2 separate regions of the Homo sapiens genome follow, and region 2 is linked to region 1. Evidence: fine-mapped expression QTL. A gene starts in region 1. The other region holds a variant in brackets. All regions are shown on one strand. Distances are between the middles of the regions. Region 1 holds the start of GAB1 (GRB2 associated binding protein 1). Region 2 has its middle 38 kb from the start of GAB1.

The links. PIP is the estimated chance that this variant, and not a neighbour inherited with it, causes the effect.
Region 2: its variant is fine-mapped to the expression of GAB1 in sun-exposed skin (GTEx, PIP above 0.99).

Annotation. Positions count from the first base shown.
Region 1 is chr4:143,329,580-143,345,629 of GRCh38, forward strand. GAB1 (GRB2 associated binding protein 1) reads left to right here and starts at 7,297. Exons shown (of 10, transcript NM_002039.4): 1 at 7,297-7,681. The coding sequence starts at 7,610. It overlaps MIR3139 (microRNA 3139), which reads left to right and starts at 13,881; the gene lies at 13,881-13,956. It also overlaps the pseudogene LOC124900789. RefSeq lists enhancers at 6,104-6,313, 7,223-8,036 and silencers at 6,506-6,673, 6,614-6,913, 7,014-7,073, 7,144-7,193.
Region 2 is chr4:143,290,777-143,306,826 of GRCh38, forward strand. No RefSeq gene overlaps it. Among named protein-coding and RNA genes, the nearest start is that of GAB1, 38 kb to the right of the region's middle. The variant A/G (reference allele first, on the strand shown) is at 6,445.

The DNA.
Region 1 (16,050 bases):
TCTGTGGTCATTTAGCATTTGAAACAAATTGAAACGGTGAAAAAGCTCAATAAGTGGGTGTCTCATAAGCTGACCGAAAATGAAAAAATGTCATCACTTCGAAGTGTCATCCTCTTATTCTATGCAACAACGAAGCATTTCTCAATTGGATTGTGACATGCGATGAAAAGTGGATTGTATATGACAACCATTGACAACGAGCTCTGTGATTGGACTGAGAAGAAGCTCCAAAGCACTTCCCAAAGCCAAATTTGCACCCAAAAAATGCCATGGTCACTGTTTGGTGGTCTGCTGCCAGTCCACTACAGCTTTCTGAATCCTGGCAAAACCGTTACATCTGAGAAGTATGCTCAGCAAATCGATGAGATGCACCGAAAACTGCAATGACTGCAGCCGGCATTGGTCAACAGAAAGGACCCAATTCTTCTCCATAACAATGGCTGACCCTACGTCAAACAACCAATGCTTCAAAAGTTGAACAAATTGGGCTACAAAGTTTTGCCTCATCTATCGTATTTACCTGACCTCTCACCAACTGACTACTGGCAAGCTTCTTCAAGTATCTTGACAACTACTTGCAGGTAAAATGCATCCACACCAGCAGGAGGCAGAAAATGCTTTCCAAGAGTTCGTCAAATCCTGGAGCACGAATTTTTACGCTACAGGAATAAACAAACTTATTTCTTGTTGGCAAAAATGTGTTGATTGTTATGGTTCCTCTTTTGATTAATAAAGATGTGTTGGAGACTAGTTATGATGATTTAAAATTCGCAGTCCAAAACCCTAATTACTTTTGCACCAACCTAATAGGTTACAAGAGCTCTGCCCTTATAAATGGAACTGGTGCCCTTATACAAAAGGCCTAGGGCAGCCTGTTTGTGTCTCTTGCCATGTGAGGACACAGCAAGAAGGCACGATCTATGAGGAACAGGCCCTCACCAAACACTGGATCTGCTGGTACCTTGATGGAGGACTTACCAGCATCCAGAATTATAAGCAATAAATGGCTATTGTTTATCTATTACCCAGTCTAAGGTATTTTGTTACAGCAGCTTGAATGGTCTAGGTCACTGGGTGGCAGAGACATCCATAAAGCTAATGAAGCTTCAGCTCAGGGCCTGTCATTGCACAGGCCTCTTGTGAGAGTGGGGAGCTTCTAGGAGAAGTGGAGTGTCCTAGTGGAGAGGGGGTGTCAAGCTGTACTCAGGAAGAATATGTAAGGATTCTGGTAAATTACCTATAAATCTTAGAAGAAAGACATCTGCATCTCCAGGGCTTCGGGAATTTGTTGGTGATTTATTTCCTCATTCTAAATACATATTCATCCAAATTTCGTATTTGTAATTGCATTATTTTCGTTAAAAAGACTCCCCAAACTATATAAACTTCTGGTCCCAGGACATGAAGATTTGCCCCTGCAGAATAATTTTGTATCTATCTGAGGTCACTGAACATGAATTTACAGTGATGTCACTCATCCTGTTCTGCGACTTGCTCCAACAGCACTTGGCTGGTTGTGTGCAGAAGAAAGTACAGTCAAGCTGGGCATGGTGGCTTAGGCCCGTAATCCCAGCACTTTGGGAGGCCAAGGCAAGTGAATCACTCGAGGCCAGGAGTTTGAGACCAGCCTGGCCAACATGGCAAAACCCTGTCTCTGTCAAAAAAATACAAAAATTAGCTGGGCATGGTGGTGTGTAGCTGTAGTCCCAGCTACTGGGTGGGCTGAGGTGGGAGAATCACTTGAACCCAGGAGGCAGAGGTTGCAGCGAGCTGAGATAGCACCACCACACTCCAGCCTAGGTGACAGAGTGATATCCCATCTCAAAAAAGGAAAAAAAAAAAAAAAAGAAAGAAAGGACAGTCAGGTTTGTCCAGAGTTGGGGTTTTGTGAGATAGGAATGTTTACTGAAAATGTGGACCACAGAATTTAAGCTGGATAAGGAGAAGGGAGTGAAGAAAGGAAATGTCTGATAGATCACGGGAAAGCACAAGTCTTAATAGACTAGAAAAGCTGTTGAGAAGAAGGAATAATTACATAGGGAGATATTGAAAAATCAAGTTGAAAGATGTATAGCTAAAGTGGGATGCTGGAAGGGAATAACAAAATGCACAAAGATGATTGCTTGAGGTGATTTGGATAGATTTTTCTTTTTTCTTTTCTTTTTTTTATTTTTTTTTTGAGACAGTTTCGTCTTGTTGCCCAGGTTGGAGTGCAATGGCGTGCGATATCGCCTCACCGCAACCTCTGCCTTCCGAGTTCGAGTGATTCTCCAGCCTCAGCCTCTGGAGTAGCTGGGATTACAGACATGCGCTACCATGCCCGGCTAATTTTGTATTTTTAGTAGAGACCGGGTTTCTGCATGTTGGTCCGGCTGGTCTCGAACTCCTGACCTCAGGTGATCTGCCAGCCTCGGCCTCCCAAAGTGCTGGGATTACAGGTGTGAGCCACCTCGCCCGGCCTGATTTGGATAGATTTGAATGTCATAGGAGATGAAATGGTCATTTGCTTCAAGAAAATGTCTAAATCTGAAGATCTCCAAGGACCTGCACAATCTGTCCCTTGCCTGCCTCTGTACCTCAGCCAGTGCCAATGTCTCCATCATTCACCCCACTGCTGCCTTCATTCAGTTCATTAAATGCTCCTTCCAGCCTGAAAACCTGTACACCTGCACCTTCTCTTTTGTCTGGAATACTCTCCCTTACTATGTCCACCAGGCCAACTTCTTCTTATCCTGAGGATCTCAATTTAAAGCCTGAATTTCCTGGCGGGCGCTGTGGCTCTCACCTGTAATCCCAGCACTTTGGGAGGCCAAGGCAGGTGGATCACCTGAGGTCAGAAGTTCAAGACCAGCCTGACCAATACAGTGAAACCCCGCCTCTACTAAAAATACAAAAATTAGCCGGGCGTGGTGGTGCACGCCTGTAATCCTAGCTACTTGGGAGGCTGAGACAGGAGAATAGCTTGAACCCAGGAGGCGGAAGTTGCAGTGAGCCAAGATTGTGCCACTGCACTCCAGGCTGAGAGATAGAGTGAGACTGCGTCTCAAAAAAAAAAAAAAGTCTTTTCCTCAGGGAAGTCCTTCCCAACCTACCGCCCTACTCCTGGGGGGTACATCCTCTGTTATATGCCCAAACAACACTATATTTTCTTCCATAGCATTTATCAACTGTATTGCCAAAATGATGGGGTTAATTATCTGCAAAAGCTTTTCTCTAGGAAAGAGGAGTGTGGGAACAGGTCTGGCTTTCCCCTACTGTATCCTGGGTCCTCAGGGACTGGCATATAATAGGCATCCCATAAATATTCGTTGTATGAATAAAATTTAAGATACTAACATATAATAACTTTTTCCAGCGTGCCTTTTAAGGCATAAAGATATAAAATATGATTTAACAAATAATCTAAACATGACATATAAAAATAAGGCAAATTTCCTTTCTAAAATATATACATGGAGACATATCTATCTTCAATTTCTCTTCAACCCTGATTTAATTTCTAGAAATACAAGCCTAAAACAACTCAGTAGAAGATAGGAAAAACACTTAAAGATTTTTTACATAGGAATGAGATAACTGAATGCCTTATTTGAAATAAAGAAAAAAATTTGTGGAAATTCCCAAAGCTAAATAATACAAGATATATTACAATTTTCCATTTACAAAGAACTTTATAACAAGAGTGTAGGAAATGGTAAATTTGCTAAAGCCAATAGTTAACTACTCAACAATACTAGTCTTACTAATGCTAATTATACTTTTGGCTCAATGTAGCTACATGCTGCCTATGGGAGAAGAGGAAAACAAATTTGATGGTTTATTTTCATTTGGAAGATTTGTGGCATGATTTATATTCACATACTTAAAAAGAAGTGCTTTGGTTTATTAGCTGCCATAAAAATTACGCTTGTTTATGTTTCAGAAAGAACATTAAGAAATACAGCAACAAACAGCAAAAATCCTACAATATCTAATATGTGCCTGATATTTAAAACTACCATTTCTTTTTTCCTTTTTTTCGAGACAGACTCTCACTCAGTCACCCAGGCTGGAGTGCAGTGGCCCTATGTCAGCTCTCTGAAACCTCCCTGTCCCGGGTCCAAGTGATTCTTGTGCCTCAGCCTCCTGAGTAGCTGGGACTACAGGCACGCGCCACCACACCCAGCTAATTTTTGTGTTTTTAGAAGAGACTGGGTTTTCACCACGTTGGCCAGGATGGTCGCGACCTCCTGGCCTCAGGTGACCTGCTCATCTAGACCTCCCAAAGTGCTGGGATTACAAGTGCAAGCCATCACGCCCAACCAACACTACCATTTTCCTTTTTATTTATTTATTTATTTTTCAGAGACAGTCTCGCTCTGTCTCCCAAGTTGAAGTGCAGTGGCACGATCTCGGCTCACTGCAACCTCCACCTCCTGGGTTCAAGCGATTCTCCTGCCTCAGCCTCCCGAGTAGCTGGGACTACAGGCGCGTGCCACCACACCCGGCTAATTTTTGTGTTTTTAGTAGAGACTGGGTTTCACCACGTTGGCCAGGGTGGTCTCAAACTCCTGGCCTCAAGTGACCTGCTCACCTAGACCTCCCACAGTGCTGGGAATACAAGCGCGAGCCATCGCGCCCGACTAACCGACCAACACTACCATTTCTTTTCTTTTCTTTTCTTTTCTTTTCTTTTCTTTTCTTTTCTTTTCTTTTTTTTTTTTTAGAGACACAATCTCGCTTTGTCGCCCAAGCTGAAGTGCAGTAGCGCGATCTCGGCTCGCTGCAACCTCCGCCTCCCGGGTCAAGCGATTCTCCTGCCTCAGCCTCCCGAGTAGCTGGGACTACAGGCGCACGCCGCCACGGCTAATTTTTTGTATTTTAGTAGAGACGGGTTTTCACTGAGTTGCCCAGTCTGGTCTCAAACTCCTGAGCTCAGGCAATCCACCCACCTAGGCCTCCCAAAGTGCTAGGATTACAGGCGTGAGCCACCGCACCTGGCCAACACTACCATTTCTATTTCTCATTAAACTTCTGCAAAATCGGTGTTGCAATTCCCATTTCACATATCGGGAAACTGAGACTCAGAGACATTGTGTAATTTACCCAAGGTCACGACTACTCAGTTGATGACCTGAAAAGTGCATCCAGATCTGCAAGAAGTTCCGCCCTTGTGATACTGTTAAGTGCCTGCCAAAAGATGACGGTCTCTAAACCCCAGTGGGAACCAGGCTTTTTCAGATTTTTCTTTTTTGAGACTGAGTCTCAATCTGTAGTTTTGTTGACTCTTTATTTGCTTACTACCCTATGCCACTACCTCCATATATGCAGGGATCTTTGTCTTGTCACCACTCCAGCACCTAATTTCTTATTACAATCATCTAACATTTTCAAACTCAGAGGAGCTTCAGAATATGAATGTTGTGTTAATAAGAAAATGACTGAAGTTATGTCTTTCCAGAAATGCTCATTTATGTCGTCATATTTTTAGCACTTTTATCTGATTATATTATCTGCTGAAATTGGCTTTGGGGCTTTTTCACAAATAAATTGGAGAAGATGTTTATTACAGAATCATGTTAAACTCAGGACCAGTATAATAATTGTGAAACACACAAGGAAGTAGGCAAATAGAACTAGGGTACCCAGTAAATTTCCTTCCTTCCTTCTTTCTCTCTCTCTCTCTTTTTTTTTTTTTTTTTTTTTGACGGAGTTTTGCTCTTGTTGCCCAGGCTGGAGCGCAGTGTCGCGATCTCGGCTCACCGCAATCTCCGCCTCCCGGGTTCAAGCTATTTTCCTGTCTCAGCCTCCCGAGTAGCTGGGATTATAGGCGCGCGCCACTACGCCCGGCTAATTTTTGTATTTTTAGTAGAGATTGGGTTTCTCCATGTTGGTCAGGCTGGTCTTGAACTCCCGACCTCAGTTGATCCGCCCGCCTCGGCCTCCCAAAGTGCTGGGATTACAGGCGTGAGCCACCGCGCCCGGCCAAGTGTCCCTCTTCTAGTCCAGCATCCGAACAGTAGATTTCAAACAAATACAAAGTTAAGTGGAATAGGCAACAAATGGAAGGGGTGTGAGACTTCAAAATGTCTCAGAGATAGGACCCAACCAAATCCTTGGCCTCGCCAAGCGCCCCCATCACTCTGGCAGAACAGCTCCAGAGACCAGCCCTGGCCAGCCCTGGGTCCCCATCTGTCCTCCCCTCCAAGCTGGTAGCTCCCGCGCCCTCTTGGTCTGTCCTTTAATCTCGCGCGGCGGGGACCGGCAGGATGGTGGTCTCCCCGCGGTTTTGCCTTTCAGGCTCTCAAGTAAAGAAAACCCTCGAAACTCCTGATCTCGAGCACAGCACAAGCTCCGAGCTGGCACCGGGCTGAGTCAAGATGGCAAGCCCCGGACTGAACATTCGAATGTCCCTCAGTCTTCCCCGCGCCCAAGCCCCGGTGCCTCTGCCCTAGCCGAGGCCTCTGCGGTCTTCCCGGGCGAGGAGCCGATTGGGGGCCGCCGGACGGCGGAGGACCCTGCTCCTGCTTCCCGAACTACAGATCCCAGGGTGCCTCTCGGACTCGCGCTCCCTCCCTCCCTTGCTCCCTCCCTTCGTCCGTCTCCTCCCCCGGCCCTTGTTGTTTTGGCTGGAAGCACTCCGGCGGAGTTTCAGAGAAAGTCTGGGCAGAAACCGGAGCCGGGCCTGAACGTGGGAAGGGGAGGAGGAGAGGGAGGAAGAAGGAGCCCGGCGGCCGGGAGAGGGAGGGAGGGATCGGGATCTGGGGCCGAGCCGCTCAGGACCTGCCGCGAGCCCCGGGGTGGGGGAGGCGGCGGGGGAGGAGCGCGAGGGGACGGGACAGCGGGATCCCTCCCAGGAGCCAAGCCGCCAAGCGCCTCGTTCCTCTGCTGCTCCCCGCCCTCTTCGGCGGCCGCGAGAGCGGACCCACCCTCCGGCTTGACCTGCGACCTCCCTGCGCCCGCCGCTCAGAAACGCCCCGCGCTTCGCTGCCAACCCTGCGGCTCCCTCTGTGACCCGGGACCAGCCCCGCGCCCGCTGCCCGTAGGCGGCTCGCGGCTTCCCCTTTCCTCGGCGTTCACCGAGCGCCGCGAAGTGACCCACCCTCCCCCGAGGAGAGGGAAGGAGGATCGCTCCGGGCGCATCGAAACCGAGGGCGGGTGGGCGGGCGAGCGGGCACCGCGCGGGGCATTGTGTGTGTGTGTGTGTGTGTGTGTGTGTGTGAGCAGCGCTGTGTCTGTTTCGGAAAGCGCTCTGGGGAGGTCTTGTCCCTAGGGGGCGGAGCGCAAAGGACAGAAGCTCCGGCACCGAGTCGGGGCAGAGTCCCGCTGAGTCCGAGCGCTGCTGAGGCAGCTGGCGAGACGGCACGTCTGGAGGCGAGGCGGGCGCACTGAAAGGAGGCCGGCGCGCCCGCGGCCCCGGCTCGCGTTCTGTTCAGGTTCGTGGGCCTGCAGAGGAGAGACTCGAACTCGTGGAACCCGCGCACCGTGGAGTCTGTCCGCCCAGTCCGTCCGGGGTGCGCGACCAGGAGAGCTAGGTTCTCGCCACTGCGCGCTCGGCAGGCGTCGGCTGTGTCGGGAGCGCGCCCGCCGCCCCTCAGCTGCCCGGCCCGGAGCCCGAGACGCGCGCACCATGAGCGGTGGTGAAGTGGTCTGCTCCGGATGGCTCCGCAAGTCCCCCCCGGAGAAAAAGTTGAAGCGTTATGTAAGTAGAGCTGCGGGCACCACTCCGCGGGCCTCGGCGTCCACACCCCTCCCCAGTCGGCTCGCCGGCGGCTGCAGCTGGCCGCGCGCGGGGCTGGTTCTTAAACGAATGCCGGTCTCTTTCCCCTTGGCCCCTACCCCTGGCGGGCTCGGGACAGGGTGCCTTGCACTCCCTCACGCCCAGGCATCCACTTGGCCGGACAACTTTCTTCCTCCAGGTTCCAGACAGCCTGCTTTGCGGGCCTGTTCGCCCCATAAAAGGACCTAGACGTCCAGCTAAACTCCTGCTGCATGCTTTTTTTCTTCCTTAGGAAGGATGGGGTGCGATGGAGAGAGGAGCCTTCTTCCTGCTTTATTCCTGCATCTGATTATTGGGCTGATGTGTGCTAAAGCTCCCGCACCGGGAAAACTGCCGAGGTTTTAGGGCTCACTAGCCCTTTCTTTGGTGGGCGCTCCCTCTCCTCCGCCCCTCGAGATGGGTTGCGGGAAGCGGGCTGTGGAGCTGAGGAGTTGGTAGTAGAGACAAGCATATCGAACGCGCGCAAAAGGGAAAGAAAGAAAAGTTATTACGCGCCCTGCCGTTTGCTTAGCAGGGTTCACATTTTCGCGGTTTTGAATTGAGGGACTTTGGAGTTTGGCCCGGGAGCCTTGGCGGTTTGCTGCGAGAGGAGGGCGCTGGGGGGGAGCCTAGTGGCTGGTGTTTGGGCGCCTTGGATGTGCTGTCAAACTCGGCAGGAGGGGACAGCTGAAGCCAGAAGGGATTTCAGTTGCGGTCCTTTCCCAGGGAACCAGAGTGGCTTTAATGGTGTTTGTGTAATTGATACAAGATGCTATGTGTTAAACCGTTTTAGCTGTTAGGAAAAATATTCCTTGAAAGTATCAACCTTGCTTTAGTGGAAACCTGTGTCCTCTTCAGAGGTCTGGGATCTTATTCTTCCTCCCCATTGGTTGTTTTGTTGCTGCTCCCTTGCAAAGGAAAGAAATGACACTTTTGTGCTGACATCTGGATCAAATATTTTTCTAGTAAAATGTGTTTGCAAAAGCAAAATTTATGCCCCCTTAAATATAATATAAATTTAATGCCTGTACGAAGGGAACCCGTTTGTCGTTGAGGAATATCTACACCCAGTATTAGAGCTCAGGTTAATCCTGTTAGTCACTGTTTGCTTGTATAGAACAGAGTGAAGTACACAGAGTGAAGTATTTAACTTCACTGACAACTCACCAGTGAATTTCTGATTTACTTTCTGCCAGAATTTATTATAGACAAGTAATTTTATTGAAAGACTCGATGCCACAAATCATAAGAAAGCTCTCCAGAGATGTGTAATGCCTCCAAATCCTGTCCATCTATCAGTTTTCCTGAATATCCTAGTAAAAATGCTAACTTTATTCCAAAAATATGAACGAGGCAGTGTTTTTTTTTCCAGCTGTTCTAAAGAGAAAGGTAGGGGTGTGTGTGTGTGTGTGTATGTGACAGAGAAGGAAGGGAGAAAGGGGTAGGGAGATAAATATATTTGTTTTGAGAAGGCCCAATTTAGGAAAAACAGATTCTTGGAGGAATTAAAGAATAACATATTTGCTGAACGTGAAAGTGATAATATAGGTTTAATTCATTCTTTCACATGGTTAGTTCATGGCTCACTCAAAAGACGCCAGGCACTGTATTAGACACCAACCATAAGGTCACAAAATACAGTAGGAAAAAGGAAAAAAGCCCTGCCTCTTGGGCTTAGAATTCAATTGAACTATTAACCAGGAAAGAAATCAGCCAAAAAGATTATGTCTTAACAAGAAAAACAAAAAGGAAAGTATAATTTGATCATTACAACTGTTTTCTGAGGTAGGTGTCATCTCTATTTTACAGAAAACAGTCCTGCATTTGAACCCAGATCTGCCTGATTGATTGGACTGTAAAAGGTTAACGACTCTCACCTAGTTCATTTCAAATGTGGAGCTTAGACTAGGTTATCTCTAAAGGTCCTTCAGGCTCACACCTGTAATCCCAGCACTTTGGGAGGCCGAGGCCAGTGGATCACCTGAGGTCAGGAGACCAGCCTGGCCAACATGGCGAAACTCTGTCTCTACTAAAAATACAAAAAATAGCCGGGCGTGGTGGTGTACGCCTGTAATCCCAGCTGCTGGGGAGGCTGAGGCAGGAGAAATGCTTGAACCTGGGAGGTGGAGGTTGCAGTGAGCAGAGTTTGTGCCATTGCACTGCAGCCTGGATGACAGGGTGAGACTCCGTCTCAAAAATAGCAACAACAAAATAAAGGTCCTTTCAGATTATAACTTTTCCTGACTCTGAATATTAGTTGAGAATACAAGAATGAGGTGGACTATGGATCAGGTGCACAGTGCTAAAGAAATGTAAGACCTAGTCTTTGCCTTTAAGTAGCTCTTTGAGTCTTTGGGACCACGAGACAAGTATATGTGAAAAAGCCAACAGTGCAAAGTGGTATATGACTGTGTGTCTAAGTTGAGTGGTATGGGTATTTTTTGGCTGTTCTGAGGAACAAGTTCAATGTAGACTGAAACTATGGGAACATTTGAGAGAGACAGTGGGCTGCCTACATTGTGTTTTCCACAGGAGGATGAATGTGCCTAATAGCTTGGGAGAAACTAGGATTTTCTTTGCCTGGTGTAGCACTGGTGTTTTCTTTACCCACGAATAAAGTAGATGGAGATAGTCCTGGAAGACAGTAGACAGGGCGGCTGTCAGAATAGAGGAAACCAGCATGGAGTGTAATGAGTTAAATAAGGCTTATTTAACTGTCAGGTTAAATAAGGCTTGTATTTTACCTGTCAGGTTGGTGGCCCAGAAGATTTTGACATTCCCAGATTATTGATCTTTTGGCTTTGCTGTCCAGTTTAGATGGTTTTTGCTAAAGTAGCTTTGACCATCAAAGATATAGACATGTATACGTGCATTTCCTATGCTTGTTTTTTTTATGTAGAATGTTTATTTTTCTGGATAAAGGAAACATTGTTGGCCACCCAGTAGGCAAAATGTTTGTGGATAATGATTTGTAATGAATGGATTTGCTATGAAAAGATATCTTGGATGCTTGATACTATAATTATTAAATGAGACTTCAGGGAGTTTGAGCATCATGATTCTGTTTGGAAATATTTGGCCCATGGGACTTTGACAGTTGTCTCACTGTTTACAGCATTTATAGGGTAGTCCGAACACTGATTAAGATGATCCATAAGGGCTTTTAAGTGACAAAAAAATTGTTTTAGTTTTTTTTAATTAATTTTTTTTTGAGATGGAGTCTTGCTCTGTCACCCAGACTGGAGTGCAGTGGCACTATCTCGGCTCACTGCAACCTCTGCCTCCCAGATACAAGCAGTTCTTCTGCCTCAGCCTCCCCAGTAGCTGGGATTATAGGCATCCCCCTCCACACCCAGCTAATTTTTGTATTTTCAGTAGAGATGGGATTTCGCCAGGCTGGTCTCAAACTCCTGACCTCAGGTGATCCACCCACCTCAGCCTCCCAAAGTCCTGGGATTACAGGCATGAGCCACCACGCCTGGCCTTAAATTGTTTTAGTTTTAGCTTTAAAGCCATCTCATATATGGCCCCCAATGTATTCCATTTACAGCTCCGTTTTATGTTTACTGTTTCATAGTCAACTCAAGCAGGATTGTTTTTTGTACACGCTAGTGTGTTAGTCTGATGTGTAAGCTTTTCTTGAATTTTCTAAAGAATGACACACAAAAAAATGAAAGTCAAGAGTAGTCAGCAGATTCCCCAGCTTTTCCTTCTCTTTTTAATTTTTTCTATATTCGCAAAAGGTTCTTTCTTGTATGTGTTTCATTCTCCTGGAAGTTTTTAAAATCTACTTAAAATGTAGGTGAAAATTTTAATGCTTCTTTTCAGGGTTGCTACTGTGGTGTTGCTGTTTTCATGCTGTGTTATATATTAAACAGCTGCTTTTTTACTTTGTTAAGGACCTGATGGAATCATAAACAGATTACTGTCACTAGGATTACAGAAAACAAGTAAAGTCTTGGTAGTATGCACTCAACAATGGTGCTCAGATTTTTAAAGAATTATTTAAAGAAATGATGGTGAAATTTTCATCAGAACCTGAAATTTTAGCTGAAATAAGATGCAAGTCTGTAAATAAAGTATTGTTTCAAGACAGCTGGCTACCACCATCGCTCTGGAGGAGGAGCTTCCTTGCCTGAAGCCCAAACACTAAGTTTGGGCTCCTCCATAGCCCAGCTGTCAGCATTGGGCAGGTGCACAATCTCAGCAGGAGAACCTGCTTCTGAGGCCAGAGCAAGGTGGCCTGTTAGCTGACAGCCAGCCTGGTAGCAAGGCCCCAGCCAGTTCTTAGGTAGGTAATCTGTACCCAGCGTGGGCTCTCTGTCTGCTCTGCAGCTGTCAATTAACAGGACAACTCTTGTCTGGACTTCAAAAACACACCCCTGGTTCTGGAAATGGGCCTAGAAACAGAAATAGCCTCTCCTACTGGGTGGGCACCTGACATCTGACATGGAGGAGAGGGGCGTGGGCAGGCCAAGTGTCAGCATCTCCTTGGTTCAAGGACAACCCAGGACCTGTGCTAAGCATGAAACCCCTGCTCAATAGTGTCACTACAACAAAGAGGACTGTCATGTCTAGAAGCTCTTCCTATCCTTTTTTGACAATTACCACTAGCAATCAATGGATTCTGATGTTTCTGCTTACAGTGACTGAATAAGCATAATTATTCTATTGAAGGAAATTTTTTCTTGCCATCCTCATGTTAGTAAACATAATTCAGACTCCCAATGTTTTTACCTTTTCAAGTGTAGCAAGAATGTTTTTTCTGTTAACAGAGATCATCAACTTGCAATTACATTAAGCCTTTATGATGGTTAATGATAGTTCATTTGTTGTGCCTGGGCTGAATGATAAGTGTAGAACTCTCCACGTGCAACTTGCTGAATCTCCAAATCTGATTGCTACCTTTTGAGATTCAGAATTACTGTTAGGAAGGTGCATTAGTTTGGAGGGGGTAGTTTGAGAATTCTGCTGGCTCTTTAAAATTATTTTTTTAAGAGATCATCTTGGAACAAAAAGTGGCAAGAGTTATAGTTGGATAATCTGTTTGACAAGTGACTGGTTATTTCAGTGTATTTTGCCATAACCTGCTTAAAAATGTAAGGAGTAAAACACACAGCGTTTTTTGAGAGTAAGTAAAATCCCATATTTTAGACTTAACATAAAAATATGTAGATAAGCTATTGACAATTTGCAGACTGAGAAAGTTTCAGAGGTGATAGATTCTTTTTTTTTTTTTTTTTTTTTTTTTTTGAGATGGAGTTTCGCTCTTGTCCAGGCTGGAGTACAATGGCATGATCTTGGCTCATGGCTCACTGCAACCTCCATCTCCCGGATTTAACTGATTCTCCTGCCTCAACCTCCCAAGTAGCTGGGATTACAGGCTCCTGCCACCACGCCCGGCAAATTTTTTTTTTGTATTTTTAGTAGAGATGGGGTTTTGCCATGTTGGCCAGGCTGGTCTCGAACTCCTGACCTCAGGTGATCCGCCCGCCTCAGCCTCCCAAAGTGCTGGGATTACAGGTGTGAGCCACCGTGCCCAGCCAGAGGTGATAGATTCAAAACATGTGTTAGGTACTCAGCAGTCCTAATTTTCTTACAGAGACTGACAGCCAGAAGGAGCATTGTAGTAGATGGGCTACTACTTTACTTTTGAAGAATTTTGTATTAAAATGTAATTTGATGCACCCACTGATGCTTTTAGTGGGGATGTTTTGCTATAGTGGAAGGAAACTCAGACTGAGTGTCAGGACCCGGATTCTACTTGGTTTTGCCATTACCCACCCACAGGAGCATTTGACCATTCTGATCCTCAGTTTCCTTACCTGTAAAATGGGGGAGGGAGGAGCTGTAGATCTTCAGCAGAAGCCCTGTTGCAGTTTAGCGTTCCTCTTCTCAGACATTTTCTTGGGTGGAAGGGACAAATGGGGAGCTCTTCAATAAGCTGCAACATAAATTTTTGGGGGACATAAATCTTCCTTGTGGGGAAATCTTTACTATTTATCTTAAATAGTTTAGTGACTGCTTAAGCAGTATTCTTTGGGGACTCTTGGTTTTTAACTGAAGGCAGACCTGCATGCAGGGCCTTTGGCTGCTGTGCTCCTGGGCTGGGTGCTGTGTCTTGAGCCCCTGTGCAATGCCTGGCTCAGAGTAGGAGCTCAACAGATGCCTGTTGACTGAATAATAAACAGGTATCGCAGGAGCTTTTGTTATGTGCCATGTGTGGAATGCAAGGAAGGAAAGGCCCACTCTCTGCCCTTAAGGAGTTTCTAATCTGTTTGTGAAGACAAGCTGTCAGTCATTTTATAGGAGCTATGATATATGATTAGTTGCCAAATGAAAGTTTAGAGTGAGAACAGGGGATGCAGGGGTACGAGATGCCAGGGAAGACTCCGCAAATGAATTTTACACTTTGCTTTTAGAAGAGCTGGTGTACTGCTGGCAGCAACAGCAAAATCTTAAGGGAGGGCTGGTTTTAAAGGAAGAACAAAGATTTGTGTTGAGTTTAGATGTCCTCATGAAAAAAACTGCTTCCCAGCACCCCAGTTTCATGTGAGGAGTTTGGCTGTCAGCTGTATCTTCTAGTTTGAGAAGTTTTTGTTTCTGCTAAGATCTAATGTTCCTCATGGGTTCCTGAGCACAAGTGAATTTTCTGCATCAAACTAGAAATGAACAAAACAACTTGTTTGGTCACCTGAACTTATTAAAATTCCAAGGGACATGAGTTGTTTAAGATTTCTTTATGTCTGTTTTAAGCTAAGTAATTCATTCTGGCAAGCAGTTAGTTTACAACAGAGAGGGAGCATGTTCTGGTGGGAGGGAGAATAAAAGAGCCTTTGATTCATTTGCTTCTGAGTTCCAGCAGCAGGACCAGGGCTGCCTTGGGCTAGCGTCTTATTTCGGACTTTGGAAGCCATCTTAGCCCAGCTGTGTGAGTGCCAGCTCGTGTTGGGGGGGAGAGAATAACACCAACGGATCACATGAAACCCCCTCTCCCTGTGGATGGAGGGGTTTCTCTCATTTCACATTCCTCGCATCAACATGGCGCCTAATTTCCACCAAGTTAGAGCTCCATCTGAATTTGCCATTTGAACTTGGATTGAAGTCACGATCTTTCTGTGACTCCTTTTATCTCAGTCTGCCAACTAATACAGAAAACTTATCAAGTCACAGTTCTCTTTATTCTCCCCTCTTGGGGTATAACACACATAAAATTAGCATTCTTTCTTTTTTATATTACCCCTGGCAAAAAGTGGCCCATTGTACTGTGGATTTCCATATTTATTAAATAACTAGGCTCTTCCGTTGCCAGTGGGATGGCTATAGGAGCCTCAATAAATTGTAGATGACAATTTAGGCCTGTAGAATTGCTGAGAAAAGTCATTTTTAGGAACTGGAATTTTTTGCTCATTCTAGGCTTCTATGTTTGAGCATCTTAAATAATAGAAGAATGCCCTAACTGGAAAAAAGAATCATTTCTCTTTTAAGCAATTCACTTATTCATAGGAGCGAAGTTCTCCCTAGTTTAAAAGGTCGCATTACTGAATAAAGTACACTATAACCTAAGAGCTTTTGACCTTCTCCCAGCCCGTTTTTAAAAAGAATTAAGACTATGCACTGTAATGCATGTTTGGTTGTTATCTCTGTTACATTAGCTCTTGAAGCATTCTGATTACAACTTGTAGCTGCCAAGCCCTGTCCTGCAGTATTATCTGGAACAAAAATTTTCCATGTGGTTGTTTTTAGCAGAGCTACTATATGCAAACTGCACGTGAAGGATATAAGTTATAAAGGAATAGAGCTTCTAGAAGGAGAAATGTGAGTTAACTTTTTTCTACCATTTAATCATTCTTTCCTCACCTCTTAGTGTGTGTTTCAATAATGTTTATCATCTTTCTAAACTGAGTTTTCTTTTATTTTTATATATTAGAAAGAATGCCAAATTTACCAAGTGCTTTTCTGATGGTGGTTTTCTTTTCTCCCAGCTTTTTACTTTGAATTCATACTTGGCCTAGGTAGTTCTCTTAAGTTATGTGTTCAAAAAACAATGTCCTAAGAGGAAAAAACAAATGGCCACATTGTCTCATGAATTAAAAACAACATACCAAGAGTCCAAACATTTCAATGTAAAAATATTAAGCCTTTCTTTTTTTAGGAAGACAAATATTAAACTTTGCTTTAACTATCCTGTTGTTTTTCCTTTCCCTTTTTTATTTATTTTCTTTTGGTTTGACTCATGTAGTTTAAATTTATTTTGAAAACAGCTTTATACATACTTCTTTAAGAATACTGCACGTAGGGGAAAGCATCAA
Region 2 (16,050 bases), 39 kb before region 1:
CCAATAAGGATTTAAACAGAACCCCCACCAATAAAGTAATCTACTACAGGCTGGGTCTATACAGTTCTCTCATGTAATCCTCGGATCAACCACGTACGGCATATGCTCTATGACTATTTTGCAAATGAAAACATTTAAGTGAAGTGATCCTTTTATTTTTCTCAAGGTGTCTGTGGAGCAGTCATTGTGTTGCTTTGTAAGAAGTGGCCACCTTCAACATGGGAAGATGCTCTATCTGGCCCCGCCTAGGTCTGCCTGTTCCCTCAACACAGCCACTTCCCACTCAGTCTGCTCTACATCTCTATGCACACTGTCCATCTGGCACAAAGAAGGAACACCAGCTGGTACATAAACTAGCACTGGAGGTATTTCCAGTAGCCTATGACCTTTGAATGGATCAACCTTTCACAGTCAACTCCTGATTATCTGCAAAAGGCTTGCACATCTCCTTGGCAAAGTTCTGGCACATAAGTGTTATTTCAACAATACAAGAGAATAATTCCACAAGTTAAAGGAATTTTCATCTTGGCCTACACAAAGTAGTAGGAAGATAAATCTGCAGGGAAAAAGGAATAATAGAGCCTCCAATGTCAAAGAAAAATCTATTCATTGTGGATTATCTCTTGCTCTCCTCCATTAAGGCAGATAATTGGGGTTACCTGAGTCTCTAACCTTACAACACTGCTGAAAGCTAGGTATTAGTCTATTTTTATAGCTGATGAAAATGAGTGTCAGAGGTTAAGCAATTTGCCTCAGGCCTTACAGCTAGTAGGTGTTGGAAGAGAGGCTCTTCAACCTCACTTACCTTTTGTAAGGCACTCCCCTCCCAATAAAGCAAACAGCAGAATGAAATGAAGGGAAGACACTCCTTCTCTTTAAAAGCATGATTAAGAACAGTTAAAAATTTGGGGCTTAATTATCCAGCCTTACACTTTGTCAGCTACCTATAGTGAATGTTACATCTTGTCCTGGCCTTTTCCTTATACCCAGTAACTTTCAGGCCCCTGTCAATGGTATGTGCTCAATGGCTAAAGAATAATATTAATATTAGCCTAAACAACATTGCATTGCAAAGACAAAATCAAACGGGGAAAACAATATCAAGATACATGATTCAAGAGCTAAGCACAGTGGTGCACATCTGTAGTCCCAGCTACTCGGAAGTTTGAGGCAGGAGGATGACTCGAGCCCAGGAGTTCTAGTCTGAGCAATATAGTGAGACTCTGTCTCTAAAAATAATAACAATAAAAAGACATATGATTCATTCCAAGTCAAATAAAAAAGACTTCTTATCTTCAGATAAGCTTGGATCTATCACTTTATTAATACCAACAGTAAAAGTTGCCACTAAACATTGAGTATGTTAGCTCTAATTTAGAAAGTAGAAATTAACATTTCTATATTAAGTTGAGAAAACTAAAACTAAGCAACTTGCTCAAGGCCATTGGCCTAATAAGTGCTAGAACCTAGATTCAAACCTGGGTGTTTCTCACTTATAAGCCTGCAGCCTTCCTAACTGCACTAACGTCTATAACTAAGAAATGTTTGTATGTGTCGCTCATCACATAATTACTTCTCAGTCCCTCATAATTCTTAGATAATGGAAAGACACAAGACTGAGAAATCTGAATAGAGCCAGTGCCCAGAAATTGTCACCACTGGATTTAGTGCCTAAAATTTCACACTTTCAGTCAGCCAATGAGAAAACCCAGTTAAATGCAAGAACAAGCTAGAATGGATAGCATAATAACCAACTAAGTTGGTGACAAAGTCCTGAGAAACACTCAAGAGAGGTCTCAGTTTACTGGTAAAAAAAGGAGGGCATTGGACACCCAGGAGAAGTAGAAAATGGCCTCAGCCTCAACAGCAAACCCAACTGTAGCACCACGGCTTGCCCTGGCTAGAAACACTCCCCATCTGATGCATAGAAAATGGCTTGTATAACATCTTTTAGCAAGGCAATGGTTAATGTAGTATTAGAGCTCAGAGGGCCCAGCTGCTAATATACAAATCTGTTCAGAAGACATGGCTAGTATCTACACTGTGTCTTCAAGAAACAAATGGAGTCAAAATCCTGATTCTTCAGCCAAACATGTTTGCTACAGGTCCCAAAAAGGCATATACATAGAGTGATCCCATGCTCACATACTTTATTATCAGCTGAGGTTCTGACCCCAAATCTTTCCTCCTCTGTTGAGCTGCATAAACACAACCCCACTAACCTAGTTAAGACTTAGCCTAGAAGCAGGTGAAGTTTTGTAGGCCAGTGGCTCTGCATTAGTCACCTTGAGGACGTGTTAAAAGTTGGACTGCTGGGCCCCACCCACTGAGATTTTGATTCAGTTTGTCTAGAGTGGGACCTGAGAATTGTTTACATTTCTCATAAATTATCTGATGATGTTGATGCCACCAGTCTGTGGACCACACATTGAAAATGACTGTTATAGACCTACACTCAAGACTTGTCCCCAGGATCCTACAGCTACAGAAGCAGGAGGAGGCAAGGCAAGTTCCAAGAAAATGCACTTCTACACAAGGGCAAGAACAGCTGGCCAACCCTTCCTTTCCCCAGAGCCCTACCTGAATCCTCCTAGGACTTCCAAAGGCCCAGGGCCACCTTTCAACTGACAGGCTACCTCAGGCCCATCTCTCATTGCACCAGATACACAGGGAAAAAAAGAAAAACAAAATTGAAAAGACAGTCTGAAGAGCAAAATAAGTCCCACTTCCCTCCAAAGGGTAGAAAAAAATGTTAACCCCCTTGCTCCTCCCCCAGAAACTCCACTTCCTATCATGATGACCAAGTTATTGATCATTGCTTTTGTGGAAGAATAAGGTTAAGCTTAGATGTGCAATTAACAAGGTTTATAGTCACGCGCTTTGCCAGATGAACAACTCTTTGCAAAAATATTTACCATAAAATAAAGAAATTGGCACTTCCAATAAAAATATCACTACAGACATTTTATTTGGCCATCCTAGAGAAACATCCACAGAAGTGATCAACACATAATAACCTCCCAATTATCTTTCTCTTTAAGACTTATGGTTTCTTAAAGTGCTTTTTTTTTTTTTTTTTTTGAGACAGAGTCTCACTCTGTTGCCCATGCTGGAATGCAGTGGCACAATCTCATCTCACTGCAACTTTTGCCTTCCTGGTTCTCCTATCTCAGCCTCCTGAGTAGGTGGGATTACAGGCGCGCACCACCACGCCTGGCTAATTTTTCTATTTTTAGTAGAGATGGGGTTGTGCCATGTTGGTCAGGGTGGTCTCAAACTCCTGACCTCAAGTGACCTGCCCGCCTCGGCCTCCCAAAGTGCTGTGATTACAGGCGTGAGCCACCACGCCCGGCCACTTAAAATGCTTTTAACCATGCAAATTAGAGAGGCTAGAGTTAATTTTATAATGCATTAGATAGTTGCTGGGATTACTATTGATTTTTTTCATTTCAAATGGCATTCAGTTAAGGAATATGTACAAATCATCACTGCTTCCATCTTGAATGGTCATTTATAAAATTTTAGGGGCTAGAACACATAAAATATTTTTAGCTTGGAAGATGTGTTGCAGGGTGGAATGTTTGTGGGAAATGTCCTCTACATGAAGGATTTCTGCTCCAAAATGTCTTGATTAATTAACATAAACAGCTTTGAGGAAAAAGAGAACAGCATCTCACGTCTGGCAGGATCCTGGCAGGGTTCTTTGGAAATTCCAAGGCAAGCCAAACACAGGGAAACCAGGCCTGTTCCATCCACGGCTGGTCCAGTTCCAGGGAAACGCCTTGGGCTTGGGAGAGCTCTGGAAAGGCTCTGCTCTAGTTGGCAGTAAACCAAAGTCCATTTCTTCTTTTGCTCCCAGGTCCCCTGAGATAATGAATTGGCTTCAGAGCCCTGGAGAAATGGGCTACAGCTGAGGAGACCTGGAGGACCCTGTCAAGAATGGCCTCAGTCAGGTGCGGTGGCTCACACCTATAATCCCAGCACTTCAGAAGGATTGTTTGAGGCTGGGAGTTTGAGACCATCCTAGGCAACATAGTAACACCCTGTCTCTACAAAAAAAAAAAAAAGAAAAAAAAAATTTAAAGAATGACCCCGATGCCCTGCTCTGCACTGTGAGCTTGTCCTTCCAGAATTTCAAAATGGAATGAATGGAATTAAGCATTATGAGAAAGAAATATAATATTTACTGAAAGTATCCTGCTGAGCTTTTAAAACATATGTTATTTAGTTCTTGCATTAACACTGCAAGACAGAGATTATTGCCTTTTCTATAATACCAGGGGAAAAAAGGGTGAGCAAGAAGGCTAAGTCATCTGCCTCACATCACATAACACATTAGTGACAGAATCAGGATAGGGACAAGAGCCTATTTTATAGCAAAGAAACCATCTTCTCCACCGGATTCCTCCAATTAACTATAGAAAAGGGGAAAGTTCAAAACAGCTCAACACTATTATATTATTTTAAGCCATTCAGACACGAAGTGGGAAATAAGTACTTTGCAGGTTTTTCTCAATATCAAGGAGTGATTCCCACCACCGGGTTCTTGGGCAACATTGCAACATTGTGAAAAAGGTGATGTTGGTTTACAACCTTTCTATATCCCAGCCTCCCTCTCCTGTACCTCTACTACTCCTCTACCACCCAGGGCCTACATTAGCCCCTCATCAGAGCTCCCCTCTCACTCCTGGAGTTTTCCAGAATCCTGATGTGGTCTCCCATCCAATGTCATAAAGACCATGTAATTGTGCCAGTGTACAGAGGAGAGATCCTTTGTACAAGAAGAAACCCACCTCCTACTAGTCTTAAACACCTCTTGCTTAAAAATTAACCCTTCCACGCTCACCACCAACCTCTTTTCAGTACTTCCAATGCTTCCATATACCTGGGCTCAATTTGTGAAATGAGTGTAAAATGCTATCTGAGTAAAATAATTTGCACCACTTGAATGACAAATGGATTCAACTATTCAGAGATATCTGTATTTTAAAGGAAGAGTTCTTAATGAATTTTGAACACTGAAAATTGTCATGAACTGGAAGGTTTTTCTAGATGTATTTCTTTCTGATTTTATCATGTTTCACTCTTATCTCTCAATCAGTCAGGGAGCAGTCATGGACTTGGTGTCCCCCATATGAAAGTTTGCCAAGGCCGGGCGTGATGGCTCATGCCTGAAATCCTAGCACTTTGGGAGGCTGAGGCAGGCAGATTGCCTGAGCTCAGGAGTTCGAGACCAGCCTGGGCAACATGATGAAACCTCGTCTCTACTAAAATACAAAAAATTAGCCGGGCGTGGTGGTGCGCGCCTGTAGTCCCATCTCCTCGGGAGGCTGAGACAGAAGAATCACTTGAACCCAGGAGGCAGAGATTGTAGTGAGCCGAGATCGTGCCATTGCACTCCAGCCTGGGTGACAGAGTGAGATTCTGTCTTCAAAAAAAAAAAAAAAATAGAAAGAAAAAGTGAAAGTTTGCCGAAGTGTGATCTAACATTACCAGGTTTTGATTTGATTAACCTTTTTGCTGCTGCAGTTTCTTCTAAATAAAAAGATTTAATATTTCCATGAATAATCTTCTACCTAGGACTAAAATAGCACCAAGAAAACCTATCAGAGTTCAAAGACCTATGTGATTTGCCCAAATTTTAGAAGAATTGAAATGTGTAGTTTCCCCGAAAATATGTCATTAAGTATTACATATCAGAAAACTTAGGCCAAGTGTGGTGGCTCACGCCTGTAATCTCGGCACTTTGCAAGGCCAAGGCAGGAGGGTGTCTTGAGCACAGGAATTCAAGACGAGCCTGGGCAAGATAGCAACACCCCATCTCTACAAAAAAAAAGTTTTTTTTTTTAATTAGCTGAGTGTGGTGCTATGTGCCTGTAGTCCTAGCTACTTAGGCTGAAGTGGAAGGATCACTTGAGCCCAGGAGTTCGAGGCTGCAATGATCTGTGATCACACCACTGCACTCCAGCAGCAATGACTCTGCTGGAGCAAGCACCTGTCTAAAAAAAAAAAAGAAAGAAAGAAAAGAAACTAATTTTTTTAATGTATAGTAGTCAAAATATTCTTTGTTCAGACATGCCACTTGCCTAGGATTGTTGAATAGCTGGTAAGTCCTGTCTTGTTTAGCATCAGAATACGTATAGCATAGCAATTTTAAGAAACTAAAATATTAAACTACATATTTGCTTTCAAAGCAAAAGTTACATAAAATATCTTTGGACTATTATTAAGAAAAAAATTGCCTGCATATTTAAAAATTCAATGCTATGTTTTCTAAAGAAGGATGGATGGAGACCCCCTTACTGGTGCAGAAGGTCAAGCTTGCCTTAATGGTCTTAGGCAAACACTCCTTGCTTAAAAATTCACCTTTTCTACAATGTTTGAAAATAGAAGGAGGAGGAAATATGAATAGTGGAAAGAAGAAAAAAGTAGGTCAGGGCTTCG[A/G]AACCCTGCCATCTGTTCTTTATCACCTAATATAGATCTCTGTTTTTCCCAGTCACCACTCTTAGGACATCTACTATAGGGGACAGTTTATGTCAGTGATGGCATAATTACAGACTATTCCTCCCAGGCCCACATCTATATATGCCATCACTTCAGGCCCACAGGCCACCCCACTATTTCTCCATCTTAACCCTGGCCCTTCTGTCTGTGGGCCTTTGCTCAAGCCATTTTTCTCTTCCAAACACATACTCTCCCAGTCCTCAATCTCCCTCCTAATTAAACTAATAGTAGATTAAACTTTAATTAAGTTTTATTCATTTCTCAAGGCCCATTTGAAATGCTCCTTTTTTCAAGGTCCCTTTCTTGTTTCTTCCCAAGGGTGGCACATTTCTCCCTGTCGGAACCTCTCAGGTATTACCTTTGTGTTACTGAATGGGCCTTGTGTGATAGTTATTTGTGTTCTATAACAGATTCCCCCTACTAGAACTTCTACCAGAAAAGGAAGCAGGGCTTGTTTATGCTTGTACTTTTAGAAAGGGTTGCTACAGTGTCTAGAGCAGAGGAGGTGTTCAGTAAATGTGTTTTCCAATGGAAATAAGATGAAAATTTCAGACAGACAATGAAAATAAATAATTCTAGACTATTTCCTTCTTCAGTTTTTTTAACTTCCCATCTGCCTGGACTCCTCCCCTGCCTTTCTTTGAATATGAGGTTAAGTTTCATGTTCTCACACTTTGCTGTCAGTTAGCTGTGATCCTACCAGGAGATGACAATACTCATCTAGAGGGATAAGAGTGGGCACAGGCTATGGCCCATCATGATGAAAAAGAAGTAATAGGAGATCAGAAGCCCGGCCAAGCAGGCTTGTTTGTTCATCTCCCATGCTGACTTGCTTAGTGGCTTTGTAGGTCACTTTCTATATTAAGGCTTTATATCTAGTGCAAAAAAAAATTAAAGTTTATGACGTTTTTAACATCTGGAGAGACCATCAACAATAGGGTCTAGTGTCCTGTGGCTTCGTAGTCTCCTCTGGGCAATGGTATAGAACAGCATATTTTTTAAGCCTCAATCAAAAAGCAGGTTTAGGTAGCAATCTGGAAGGTTCTCCATGCTAAGGGGTTTTTTTGTTTGTTTGTTTTTGTTTTGTTTTGTTTTGTTTTGTTTTGTTTTGTTTGAGATTCAGTCTCACTCTGTTGCCCAGGCTGGAGTGTAGTGGCATGATCTCGGCTCACTGCAACCTCCGCCTCCCAGGTTCAAGCGATTCTCCGGCCCCAGCCTCCGGATTAGCTGGGATTACAGGCATGCTCCACCACACCTGGCTAATTTTTGTATTTTTAGTAGAGACGGGGTTTCACCATATTGGCCAGGCTGGTCTCAAACTCCTGACCTCAGGTGATCCACCCACCTCGGCTTCCCAAAATGCTGGGCTTACAGGCATGAGCCACCACGCTCAGCCCATGCTAAATTTTTAAATTTTGCCTGAATTACTCTAGAAGCATTTTCATTTTACTAAGTCACTTAATAATTTGTTCTACAGCAAGGGTATTTTTCCCACCAGCCAACCTCACCCAAGAAAAAAGCTGCTTAGGCTTTTTTCTTTCTGTGCCACTACTGCCCATCAGAGGACATGATCCCAGTCTTCTGGGCAGAGAGAGACAGTGCTCCCAGATGGCCTGAACTGCTGATGAGAACCGTCCATTGAGCAGTTTGCACAAAGGCATGGCAGTTTTCAGGAGACTTTGGTGCCTCTCCAGGTGTGCTGTGAGGTTAAAGAAAGGCAGGCCAGGTGTGGTGGCTCATGACAAAATTAGTTGGGCGTGGTAGCACATGCCTGTAATCCCAGCTACTCGGGGGGCTGAGGCAGGAGAATCACTTGAACCCGCGAGGCGGAGGTTGTGGTGAGCCAAGATGGCGCTATTGCACTCCAGCCTGGGGAATTTAAAAAAAAAAAAAAAAGGGAAAGGCTTGCCCTGGGTGCCCGTGGTTCTGGCCTGGACATTGCCAATAAGCGTGTTCTAAGACATCCCCCTCCTCTTCCTTTCCTACTGTCCTGTGTGCCCTGCCCACCTTGGCTCTGCCAGGTAACTCTCTTGTACTATCCCTTTGTTAGATTGTAAATTCCAGGGCAATCTCAGTAGTATATTCTTATTATCTAAGGTTGACTTAGGAAGTATAAAACTGAATAGAACCTGTTTCTTCTTCAGCTTCTTCACTGACTAGTCTAGATTGAGTCATTGCCTGTGACCTCTTGCTTATCCTAGGGAACAGGCCAGTTAGAGATGCTCAAGGAGCATAGTTGGGAGACCTAGATGATACTTCAGCCTGAGAGAAGGAATATGTCTCCAACAAGGAGTCCCCAGGGACACCTCCCGGATGAATCAGACCTGAAAAAAGAGAAAGTGATTCCTTTCAGCTAGTTTGCACGTGCCACTCCTGTATCCCCACCTCCATGTCACCCTGAATCAGCTTCTGAACTTCTAAACTTCAATATCCTTTTCCACATGTTCCACCCTTTGTTACCTGTCAATGAAAGCCAGAATAGCAAGCTGCTGCCACTTTCTTACAGGTTGGTGAAAAAACACCCGAACTTCTCATATCTGCCTACTTTCACCTTTGAAAAGAGTAGGGCTACTCAGGTGTAAGAAGGATGAAAGAGAAACTAGAGGGACCCACGAAAATTCCCACTTGCTACACAGTTTTTCCTGAGGCCATGCTATGTACCCCTCACCAGTTTATCTTCAACCCTTCTCTAATGATAAAAGCTGTGCACCCTTGTTAGTGGGAGTGTAAATTGGTTCAACCATTGTGGAAGACAGTGTGGCGATCCCTCAAGGATCTAGAACTAGAATTACCATTTGACCCAGCAATCCCATTACTAGGTATATATACCCAAAGGAGTATAAATCATGCTACTATAAAGACACATGCACACGTACATTGACTGCGGCACTATTCACAATAGCAAAGACTTGGAACCAACCCAAATGTCCATCAATGATAGACTGGATTAAGAAAATGTGGCACATATACACCATGGAATACTATGCAGCCATAAAAAAGGACGATTTCAGGTCCTTTGCAGGGACATGGATGAAGCTGGAAACCATCATTCTCAGCAAACTATCACAAGGACAGAAAACCAAACACCGCATGTTCTCACTCATAGGTGGGAATTGAACAATGAGAACACTTGGACACAGGGTGGGGAACATCACACACTGGGGCCTGTCAGGGGGTGGGGGGGCTGGGGGAGGGATAGCATTAGGAGAAATACCTAATGTAAATGATGAGTTGATGGGTGCAGCAAACCAACATGGCACATGTATACCTATGTATCGAACCTGCATGTTGTGCACATGTACCCTAGAACTTAAAGTATAATAAAAATAAAATAAAATATAACAGTTCATAACAAAGAAAAAAAAAGCTGTGCACCCAGGTGCGTCTCCGCACTTCAGTGGGGACACTGGTTCATATGCATGCAGGTCAGTTTCCTGAAGCTCCTCAGACACATCTCCTGGGAGATTTTCCTTGGCACAGAAGAAAGAATAATAGATCTCTTCTTTGCCCATTTCTCTAATCTGACTTTGTTTTACAAAACTGCAGATCCAGGGTGAAGAGTGTTAGTATAGTAGATAAGTTCAGGGTTCTAAAGTCAGAAAAGTCTGGGTTCAAATTGTGACTTTGTAACATACAGTTTTATGTCTGCAAGCATATCACTTTGGGTTTCTTGGCCTTCATTTCCTCAAGTAAATAAAGGAGATAAGGAGACAACAGGTAACTTGCCAGGTACTGGGAAGATAATACATGTTTCTACATGTCCTTAGCACAGTAAGTATTCAACAATGGCAGATATTACCCATATTGGGTGAAGGCTCAGGTCCACATAGTCATATGTGTTAATGGTGCTCCCTGGAATTGCTCAGTGCAATGACTGCAGGAACGTTTTACCCCACAGTTCTGGGAAGAAGTAAAGATGAGGACCTTTAAAAATTCACATGAAGTAGAAGTTAGACACAGAGCGGGCAATTCCCAGCAGTGACACCAAGCATACACTTGGTTCAGGGCAATTCTGGAGATAAAGAGGAGAAAATTTGTTTTTCTTTTTTGGAGACAGGTTCTTGCTCTGTTGCCCAGGCTGGAGAGAAGTGGTGGGATCACAGCTCACCATAGCCTCGACCTCCCTGCTTAAACAATCCTCCCAGCTCAGTCTCCCTAGTAGCTGGGATCACAGGCACGCATGACCATGCCCAGCTAATTTTTTTTTCTATTTTTTTGTACGGGGCGGTGCGGGGGGTCTCACTTTGTTGTTCAGGCTTGTTTTGAACTCCTGGGTTCAAGTGATCACCTTGCCTCGGCCTCCCAAAGTGCTGGGATTACAGATATGAGCCACCACACCCAGCCAAAAACTTTAAAAAATATTTTTTTCCTGCATCAAGGGAATGATACATTGCAGAACTTATTTTAAGTACAGACTTGCATTTGTAACCAAACAAACACCTCAAATTTTTTTAAGAACACTATAAAAATAGAGAATAACTTTATTATTGTAAGTTCATGTGAAACACTAACTAGAATGTCTGAGTATGTAATGGGGTATTAGGCACAAACAGGAGAAATGCTGTGCCAATTGGACATAATTAGACACAGAGATTAGACATAATTGTTGCCATTGAGAGCTTCTGGCCAGGTTTGGTGGCTCATGGCTGTAATCCCAGCACTTTGGGAGGCCAAGGCAGGAGGATCCCCTGGGATCAGGAGTTCAAGACCAGTCTGGCCAACATGGTGAAACCCTATCTCTACTAAAAATACAAAAATTAGCTGGGCGTGGTGGTGCATGCCTGTAATCCCAGCCACTCGGGAGGCTGAGGCAGGAGAATCGCTTGAATCCAGGAGGCAGAGGTTACAGTGAGCCAAGATCATGCCATTGCACTCCAGCCTGGGCGACGAGAGCGAAACTCCATCTCAAAAAAAAAAAAAAAAAAAAAAAAAAGGAGCTTCTGGTATAAAGAGCAGGGATTCTTAACTTGAGAATTATGGACAAGCCTTGAAGGACCCGCCAACCTCCAGAAATTGTGTACACAATTGTGTGTGTACTTGTGGGCAATTTCAGAATGTCCAGAGCTTTCTTCAGAATCTCAAAAGGATTAAAAAAAAATAGAAGAAGGAAAAAGAAAAGATGAAGAATCACAGATCAAGACTAAAGAATCATTGAATTATAGTAATTTTTCTATGGAATGCTACAAAAGTAGAGTACTCACAGTCATCTAATTCTGGGGTTCTCACACTGTTCTAGGTAAAGGACAAACTTAATTCTTGGCCCTGCTGAACTTAAGATAAGCTCAGTGTTTCATTCCTCTGTAAACATGTGATTTTTCAATACATTTGGATTTCTCAGAAATTGTTCACAAAACTTGTGCCAAAATCTATGATTCCCTTGGTATTACATTTGGGCTGCTCCAAGCCACAGGGTAATTTACAACCAGCCCGCTGTGTTGAGCCCACCCCCCTGTATGACCAACAGGAAGAGAAGTTTGGCAGCAACACTGCCCTAATGAATGAAAAATGCAAACCTTGCAAATCCCTCTGCATTTAAATCCCCCAGAGTCCTGATGCAGACACATTTCCAAAAAGCCTGCATTTCCAAGATGTAATTTACTGTCCTTAGAGGTTCATGTGGGCCACCCAAAGTAGATGGGCCTTATTAAAGCAGCTTTTATCGGCCAAGCAGATACAGTGTTTTTTATTATCAAATGGGGGAAATTTGATGAAATGAGCAGCTTTGGTGAGAAATGATAAATTGCACAATGTCATGGCATATTCTGGTGAGCATTTGCACATAGGGTCGCAGCAGAGGCGCACTGATCTCCGTGTCTCCACATGGCTTCACCATATTCCAATCCAGTATCTTGAAGAAGGAAGGAGACTTTAGGTTAGTTGTACCTTTGTATGGGATATTCTTCATAAAAACAAATGTGTACTGAGAGAGAAGCTACCACTAAATTCTCATGGGAAGAAGCCAGTAATTTCTTTTCTTTTTTCTTTTTTTTTTTTTTTTTTTTTGTAGACTAGACCTCAGTGAGGCAGAGACTCCAGGGAGGTGCTGGATAGAGGAAATCTTCTCCTTTGGAAAATATGCTTTTCCTGGAGCATGGGGTACTAGTCCCCTAAAAATAAGATTTTATTACACAACACAGGATACAAATTGTAGTACAGGTCCAGGATCCATTATTTACAGCCCTTGGGGCAAGATGTGTTTCAGAATTTGAAATCTTTCATTTCTTAAGGCCAGGAACAGTGGCTCATGCCTGTAGTCCCAGCTATTCAAGAGGCTGAGGCAGGAGGATTGCTTGAGCCCAAGAGTCTGAGGTTACAGTGAGCTATGATTGTACCACTGCACTCCAGCCTGGGCAACAGAGCAAAACCCCATCTCTAAAAATGTTAAAATAAAATAGAATCTTTCCAATTCTTAAAAGTTAGGGCTGGGGCAGCGGCTCATGCCTGTAATCCCAGCACTTTGGGAGGGCAAGGCAGGAGGATCACTTGAGTCCCAGAGTTAGAGACTACCCTAGGCAACATGGCAAAACCCTGACTCTATAAAAAAAATACAAAAAATTAGCGAGGTGTGGTGGTGCACGCATATAATCCCAGCTACTTGGGAGACTGAGGTGGGAGGATCACCTGAGCCCAGGAGGAGGTTGAGGTGCAGTGAGCCGAGATCGCACCACTGGATTCCCGCCTGAGCACAGAGTGAAACCCTGTCTCAAAAAAAAAAAAAAAAAAAAAAAAAAAAAAATTAAGACTTGCTGAAGGCTCAGGTTATCATTAGCATTTAAAATGTTAATATAGGGTATATATACTCTATAACTAAGAGAGGATGGGGAAACACCCTATTACTAAACAAATTCTTTTCATTATTTTCTTCTGCCAATGTTAAAGTGTTGATCATGTCCCCGCTCATGGTCCCAAGATGGCGATGGGTACAGCAGATACAAGAATATTGTTTTCATTCAGTGATAATCAACAGCCAGGAGAAAGGTGCTGGGGTTTCATGTTGTGTTTCTCTTCCCTATTGTGGAGAAAAATTCATTCCTAGAAGCCCCAGGGAGACTTCCCTCAGATACTATTGCCTAGAACTGGGTCCCAGACATATCCAATACAAATTCCAGACAAAAATGCATTCCCTAAACTTGGGAGAGATATGTCTTCCCTGCACACACTGTTGTTATAGCTGAACAAAATCCAGAGTTCTTATGCAAGGAATGAGGACAAAACAGTACTGGATAAAGCAACAAATGGAGACTAACACCAGAGTGTATCAAAAAACCAAGGCGAGGTTCTAATTCTTAGGAAGGAAATAGCATAAATTACCGAAATAGAATCTGATTAAAGTATTAGCCATCTGGGACCAAAATCTGTGTGCTGCCTCTTCTAAGAAGCCCTCATGGGCACCAAAGCAGACTTGTTACTCAGGTACACAGACTCATTTTTATTGGTTTATCCAGTGGTGATTTGTATCTTATCTTGGGATTTTACATGGAAGTCATGATACTTTACTCTCAGCAATCTAAGGGAAAGGAATGAAGCTGGAGGAGGTGGGAGTAAGAAAATAGAAAATGCGACCAGGTGAGGTGGCTCATGCCTGTAATCCCAGCACTTTGGGAGAGCGAGGCGGGTGGACCACCTGAGGTCAGGAGTTCGAGACCAGCATGGCTAACATGGTGAAACCCCGTTTCTACCAAAAATACAACAATTAGCCAGGCATGGTGGTGGGCGCCTATAGTCCCAGCTACTTGGGAGGCTGAGGCAGGAGAATCACTTGAACCCGGGAGGTGGAGGTTGCAGTGAGCCGAGATCACAACATTGCACTCCAGCTTGGGCAACAAGAGCGAAACTCCGTCTCAAAAAAGAAAGAAAAAGAAAATAGAAAATGAGGCAATAGGCTGGACGCAGTGGCTCATACCTGTAATCCCAGCACTTTGGGAGGTAGAGACAGGCAGATCACTTGAGGCCAGGAGTCTGAGACCAGCCTGGCCAACATGATGAAACACCATCTCTACTAAAAATACAAAAATTAGCTGGGCTTGGTGGCACATGCGCGTAGTCCCAGCTACTTGGTAGGTTGAGGCAGGAGAATTGCTTGAACCCAGAAGGCAGAGGCTGCAGTAAGCCAAGATCACACCACTGCACTCCAGCCTGGGCAACAGAGTGAGACTCTTTCTCAAAAAAAAAAAAAAAAAAAAAACAATGAGGCAATAAAGAGATAAGTTATAGACTAGACCAGGGGTCAGCAAATTATAGACTTTGGGCCAAATCCAGCCTATTGCCTATTTTTATAAATAAAGATTTATTGGAACACAGTGATGCTTTTTGGTTTATGCATTGTCTATGGTTGCTTGTGTGCTAACAGCAGAATTGATTAATTGCAACAGAGACCATATGGCTTGCAAAACCTAAATGTTTGCAGTTGAGCCCAACCTGGAAAAACTTGCTGATCCCTATACTGGTCCCAACCACCAAAGCAAGTGATAAAAAAAACAAATGTACCCTAAAATCTATGCACAAGGTCATAGGCATCTGCAAAGTTATAGGGCCATGGCCACTAGGAAAAAGGAAATCACAAGGGCAGGGCTGTAATTCAGAGTTCACAGCAGGATTAGAGGATTAAACAGGTGACTTGGATGAGATATCACAATGAAAGCCAAGGTAGATGCATGGTTCTTCCAAATAAGCATCTAAACAAGGCGATGGGCAAGGGTGAGTGTGTGAGTGTGAGTGTGTCTGAGTGTGTGTGTGTGTATGTGTCTTCATCTGTGTGTAATTCAAACACTGAAGGCAGGAACCCCATAATTAGGGTGAGAGCACCAAAGATGAGCACACTACAAATCAAGGAAACTTAGTGTTCAACACAGATTTGTAGCACAGAGCCATACTTTGTATATTGCATTGGAGTAAACCTGCAAGAGAGTTAAATAACAATGTTTCACTGGTTTGAGAGGAGCCTAAAGTGGCTGAAATGATCCTGCCTCAAGTCAATTATTTTGGCAAGTGAGGGGAACTAAGCCATGTGCGGTGAGATCAGCAGCACATCTGAAAATCACTGGGATCAGTAGAGGAAGAAAATGAACACTAGGGTGCTGCATGAACCTAACTATTTCAATATGGGGGTAATTGAGACTCTTGATCTAGAATCATCACTCCCTACCTTTGATAGCACTAAAGAAAAACCACACTGGGCATGGTGGCTCACACCTATAATCCCAGCACTTTGGGAGACCAAGGTGTGTGGATCACCTGAGGTCAGGAGTTCGAGACCAGCCTGGCCAACACGATGAAACCCGTTTCCACTAAAAACACAAAAATTAGCCGGGCATGGTGACATGCACCTTTAATCCCAGCTACTCAGGAGGCTGAGGCAGGAGAATCACTTGAACCCAGGAGGCGGAGGTTGTACTGAGCGGAGATCACGCCATTGTACTCTAGCCTGGGCAACAAGAGGGAAACTCCATCTCATAAAAAAATAAAAAATCGTATTCTGACTGTCGTTTTTCAAGATTTTCTTCTATTTGTGTAAGTAAAAAATATCATCTACATCTCCCCTCCTCA